Linked DNA regions of Homo sapiens. The protein of the gene in region 1 purifies or fractionates together with the protein of each later gene. This does not show direct contact. Each region holds a gene or a part of one and is shown in the gene's direction. Other genes may lie near its edges.

Region 1 (2,730 bases):
AGTCAAAAAAGAGAAGAAGAGTGGATGGGATGCAGTATTACTGCAGCTAGAGTGGAGTATGAAGCTTTCTCATTCAAGCCAATGAAAATGCGCTTCCCATTCTTGGAATAAAAGAGGTGTGGTTCACATTTGGCCCCCTTTCCGTCCTCCTCTGTTTGGAGAGGCCTCGCGCTCCCTTCATTCTCTTTAGCTGCAGTAGCCACCGTGTGGATGCTGACTTCACAGCCAGCGTCCTCTGTGACTCAGCTGATGCAGCTCATTCCACAGACTTCTCCAGTGTACTCCTACTCCAGTGCACCCAGGGTTATTTGCATAGTTTTTAAGTTTGATTTTGTTTTGAGAAAGCAAATTGGTGTCTTGTTTAATGATCTGTTATTTCACTCCCAGATGTGTGTGTTTTGCCACAGAGCTGTTGCCTTCCAGAACCTCCTCCGCAGGCATCACGGAAGGCTCTCTTCCCGTCACCTAGAACCTCTACAGGTCCCCTCGCCCCTATGATCGTGGTGCCTTGGGTCAAAGCTTCCTCAAGCCTGGTCTGCTCCTTCTTTCACGTCCCTGTTTTCTGAGGTTTGGTCATAGCTTAGAAAGGATCTTGGGGCTTGTTTTCTCTAGGCCCAACCTCCAGAGTAGCCAGGACTGATGGTTTTCTGGTCTGGATGTCTGTCACAGGCGGAGAGATTAACAGATGACAGGGTTGAGGAAGCAAGCCTTTGTTATGAATTTTACTAATACAGTTCAAGTGAAATTTTCGTTCATGATTCTATTGGCACTAGAATTAGAATTTCAGTACTGTAGTGCTCACAGGGCTTCCTGGAGAACATTTGCCCGTATACTAGTCCCTTCTCTGCTGCCTAGAAAACAGACCGGGTCTCACCCCTGTGAAATCTTGGTGGTTTACGAAGTCCTCTGGATTTCTTGATATTATCAGGGATATTCATAAGCATATATCAAAAATGGACCTATTTTGATATTCTGTTATGAAAATGTTATTAGAACCCCAATAAATTATTATTTTTCCCCCTTGAATCTGCTAAAGAAAACAGATCCTGACTTAGCTTACTTGAAATAAGCAGGGCAGGGAGCCCTGTTTTGGAAGAGACAGACTGTGGAAGAGATTACAAACAAGGCCCGAGGCTGCACGAATGATGAGTTTTGTGTATATAATGTTAATGTCCACCGCCACTTCCCTAACGACTATGAGATCTTTTTTTTGAAGATCCTCATGGAAGGTTGTACAGAGCCCCACATTTGAGGGGAAGTCCTTTCAGTTGATATGAGATCTCTTTAACACCCCTCAGTCTATGTAGGAAATGCCTTGTGATACATAGAGAACCCTCAGCTTCTCTCTGCCTCTGGAGGACCAAGGTCTTTCCTGACAGTCGGAGACACACCTTGATGTATGTTAATAAAAGCATTTCAGGCTGTGGGGCCACCATGTATATTAATACTCCTTATGTGTCCAGCATCTGTGTATTCATTCGAGTGCCCAATCCCTGGATGAGATGAACTAGGCCTTATAAAAAGTCAAAGCCTCAAAGAAATGGCACAACCATGTTCTTCGGCACTCAGGCTCCTAATTGCAGATCCTCACGAAGGGTGGTATGTGGAGCTGGAAGGTCTTGTGGCCACAGGACATGCTGGTGAGCCCTGAGCTGGCCTTGTGCAGAGGGCTCCGTTCAAAGGCTCGGGGTGTCTTTGAGGTTGTTTATCAAGCTGGGGAACTCTTCCAAGTCTGACAATGTTTCGAACCCTTTTTGCAAGGTTGCACTATTAGTATACCATCATGTCCGGAAAACTTTTAATCTTCTCAAATATCTGATGTAACTACCAGAAAGTCCCTTACTTCCTATGACCAATCAGGACCAAGTCTTGGAGGTGATGTGTTACATTACGTGCAGCACAATAGTACCGATCAGTTAACTCAGCGCTGAAGGGCTTGTTTTATGAAAGGTACTATTCCTTCTTTCACATTAACTGGAAACCTCTTTTTTTACCTGTTGTTCACAACTAGTTTTCTTATTGACTGTATTGGACTGTCTCTTCTTGTAGAGACTGATTTTGGCCAACATATTAATGCATGTTTTATGCAAAACACAAATATGATATTAGTTGCTTTTAAGGAGTTCTGGCATTGTATGTGCATTTTTGTAGAAATTGTTACTGGACTTATAATTACATACTTAACTCTGATCAGGTTTCTGTAAAATTTAAATAAAACCAATACAAAATAGTTGCTTTTCAGATTGTTTTTAGTATATTTAAGTCTACACAGCCTCCCTCTGCAGGTTTTAAGAAAATGCAGGCAGGGCGCGGTGGCTCACGCCTGTAATCCCAGCACTTTGAGAGGCCGAGGCAGGCAGATCACGAGGTCAGGAGATCGAGACCATCCTGGCTAACATGGTGAAACCCCATCTCTAATAAAAATACAAAGAATTAGCTGGGTGTGGTGGCGGGCGACTGTAGTCCCAGCTACTCGGGAGGCTGAGGCAGGAGAATGGCGTGAACCCGGGAGGCAGAGCTTGCAGTGAGCCGAGATCACGCCACTGCCCTCCAGCCTGGGCGACAGAGCGAGACTGTCTCAAAAAAAAAAAAAAAAGAAAAAATGCATAGAGCCGGGCATGGAGGTTCACGCCTGTAGTCCCAGCTACTTGGGAGGCTGATGCAGGAGGATTGCTTGAGCCCAGGAGTTGGAGGCTATAGAGTGCCGTGGTTGCACCTGTGAATAGCCAG
Region 2 (3,500 bases), on another chromosome or scaffold:
GAAATCTAATAGGGGTACTACCACCTCTGTTCTAGAGCTCCTAGTGAGGATAAATACAATCCTAGCCAACTCAGTTTTCGTAATGAAGGAAAGGAATTGGGAAGAACTACACACAACAAGAGTCCTTTTTAAAGTCTGCCTTGGGGGAAGATGAATCAGTTTGACCAAATTTTTCCTAGAAGTGGGCCAGTGTAAAAGGTATTCTATAATAATAACTAAATTCTGAATCTCCGTAGAATTAAAGGTCAAGATTATCTACTTGGGTCCAAAATTAAACCTAAGAGGCTGTAGGTGGGAGGAGGGAGGAAATTGAATATAAGTAAAATTAAACCTACTGAGAGAACTTTGAAGATCCTTCCTCATGTGTGACATTGCACCTTTTTCCTTCATTTCCTTTAACACGGGCCAGTTTAGAGCCTTGGCTACTGTGAAAAAGCTATGAGTCATAGAGACCACATAAGGAATGAATGATTCTAAAGATAAGATAATTGCAGTAAAGAGTTATTCGTGCTATTTTGGGGTGAAAAAATCGACTTGATTTGTCAAAACAATTATTGTTATACCTGTAAATTCTGTATAAAAGGAATTCTTTATGGTCACATAAATCCAGAACCCAAATGAAATCTATTTCACGGCTTAGGAATGGTTTTTTGGAGCTAACCAGGAGGAGGCAGCTAGTTTCCCTTTTGGAGATATAAACTGTGCTCGGCATTATCCTTATGCCACATTTCCCAATTTAAAAGTAAGGAAGATGAAAAAAATTAAGTACAACTTGGATAAAACTCTAAAAGAGAAATACATAAAGGAATATTTGCAGTAGTTAAAAAGAAAAGACCCACTCCAGATCACACACTGGTACTCTGTGTGGATTAAAATTAATAGTTGACAAAAGCTGGTATTTGTAGGTAGCACCTTAAGGGGTAGGGTTAAGGCTGTGAACCTTTCAGAATGTTTTTGGTAGTAAACCCTTAGGAGCTTGCAGTTTAGGATCACAGCGTTGATCTCCTTGGGGAACCAATGGTATGTCATCATGTATGTGATATTTATGTCTCTTACAGGGACAGGACCAGATGGTAGAATCACCAAGAAGGATATCGACTCTTTTGTGCCTAGTAAAGTTGCTCCTGTGAGTTATGTGTAGCTCTTACTTTTTTTGCAGTTTGTCTCTACAGCCTGTTAGACCATTTCATACATTATTTATGAACGAAATAGCTCAACCAAGATTGTTTTCTTCTAATTTCAGTGGTTTAATAATACAGTCATCCCTCGGTACCCATGAGAGGTTGGTTCCAGGAGCCCCCTTGTATACCAAAATTCGCAAATGCTTAAGTCTCTTATATAAAATAGTGTAGTATTTGTATATAACTTACCCACATCCTCTCAAATACTTTAAATCATCTCTAGATTACTTATAATATTAAATACAAGGTAAATACTATGTAAATAGTTGTTATATTTTATTGCTTAGGAAATAATAATAAGGACAAAAAGTCTGTACTTGTGCAGTTCAGATGCAACCATCTGTTTTTTTCTGGAATATTTTTGATTTGCCTTTGGTTGAATCCAGTGATGCAGAACTTATGGATATGGAGGGCCAAGTGTATTTAGATATTTGTGTGCTATCATTTATATACAAGATCAAAGATGATATACTACATTGACATGTATTCCACATTATGTTTTGAGCTAGTTAATCGGTTTTTGCTTTGAAATAAAAGATTTGTTCTTTTTTTCTTTTTCAAAATATTTTAAAGTACAGTTGAATGAGTTGTTTTTGGTGTTTGGTTTTTTTTGTTTGTTTGTTTTTGAGACAGTCTCACTCTGTCGCCCAGGCTGGAGTGCAGTGGCGCGATCTTGGCTCATTGCAACCTCTGCCTCCTGGATTCAGGCGATTCTCATGCCCCAGCCTCCCAGGTGGCTGGGACTACAGGTGCATGCCATCACACCTGGCTAATTTTCGTATGTTTAGTAGAGACAGGGTTTCGCCATGTTGGCCAGCCTGGTCACGAACTCCTGGCCTCAAGTGAGTCATTGTGAGGCTCAAGTGAGCCTCCCAACCCCCTTTTCTTAACATTGTTTAGGATAATGGATTAGCTTGTTTATACTTATTTATTATTCCTTGCAACTTAAGAATGCTTCCATTGCTTTTCTTGAACATAATTTTGCAAAAACAAAATTATTTTGACACAAACTGGTCATTGAACATACTCTGATACAAAGAAAAATGACACTTAAAACATGACTTCAGAATTCTAAGTAAAAAAATTAAAACTCTTAAAACAAGCAGAAGTCTCTTTTGCTCACTGGGGACAGAAATAGGTATTCTATAAAGCTTAGTTTTTAGACTGGACATGGTGGCTCATGCTTGTAACCCCAGCACTTTGGGAAGCCAAGGTGGGTGGATCACTTGAGCCCAGGCATTTGAGACCAGCCAGGGCAACGTGGCTAATTTCCGTCTCTACTAGAAATCCAAAAAAATTAGCTGGGCATGTTGGCGTGCACCTGTAGTCCCAGCTACTCTAGGGGCTGAGATGGGAGGATTGCTTGAGCCCAGGAGGTTGAGGCTGCAGTGAACCATGATTGAGCCACTGCATTCTAGCCTGGGTGACAGAGCAAGACTCTGTCTCAAAAGACAAAAAAAAAAAACTGCATAGTCACTGGCAGTCTTTCCCAGGTACTTACGCTAAGATTGAATCACAGTTACTAAGAGCTTTTTCTTTCCTCCCATAGGCTCCGGCAGCTGTTGTGCCTCCCACAGGTCCTGGAATGGCACCAGTTCCTACAGGTGTCTTCACAGATATCCCAATCAGCAACATTCGTCGGGTAAGAGAATTACCATCATCTGGAATCAGCTGTTAGGGGCATCTTTAGGTTGTTTAGTTGCTTCCATAGTTTTTAACACATTAACAGAGGCTTTTTAAGTTGGGAATATTGGATGATTACTTTAAGGGAAGTTTTGGCCAACTGAATACTTGAATCACTTTGTTCCTATTAGAAGGGCCAGGCGCAGTAGCTCATGCCTGTAATCCCAGCACTTTGGGAGGCCAAAGCGGGCAGATCACAAGGTCCAGACTTCGAGACCAGCCTGGCCAACATAGTGAAACACCCCGTCTCTACTAAAGATACAAAAATTAGCCGGGCATGGTGGCACATGCCTGTAGTCCCAAGTACTCGGGACGCTGAGGCAGGAGAATTGCTTGAACTTGGGAAATGGAGGTTGTGGTGAGCCGAGATCGCACCACCGCACTCCAGCCTGGGCAACATAGCGAGACTCCATCTCAAAAAAAAAAAAAAATCTAGGAGGTGTTATATTATGGCGGAGTCCTCCATCTTTCAATTATAATAATGCTTGAGGTAAGTATTAGCAGAGAGTAAGGTGAAGAGACAAACAGAGCCCTAAATTAGTTAAGGTCTTAACTCAAGATAATTGATTTTTTAAATCTCTTTGGTTTCAGGTTATTGCACAGCGATTAATGCAATCAAAGCAAACCATACCTCAT

What was found. Proteins that work in one complex are often made in the same cells at the same time.
Region 2: the proteins of UBR7 (region 1) and DLAT purify together in Homo sapiens (affinity purification with mass spectrometry, with the first as the bait; one large-scale study listed by BioGRID). This does not show direct contact.

What each region holds. Positions count from the first base shown.
Region 1 is NC_000014.9:93,226,986-93,229,715, forward strand, and holds the end of UBR7 (putative E3 ubiquitin-protein ligase UBR7), read left to right. Parts: coding exon 1-50; 3' UTR 51-2,230; downstream 2,231-2,730. UniProt on the Homo sapiens protein: E3 ubiquitin-protein ligase which is a component of the N-end rule pathway. Recognizes and binds to proteins bearing specific N-terminal residues that are destabilizing according to the N-end rule, leading to their ubiquitination and subsequent degradation.
Region 2 is NC_000011.10:112,042,408-112,045,907, forward strand, and holds part of DLAT (dihydrolipoyllysine-residue acetyltransferase component of pyruvate dehydrogenase complex, mitochondrial isoform 2 precursor), read left to right. Parts: intron 1-1,058; coding exon 1,059-1,126; intron 1,127-2,730; coding exon 2,731-2,823; intron 2,824-3,455; coding exon 3,456-3,500.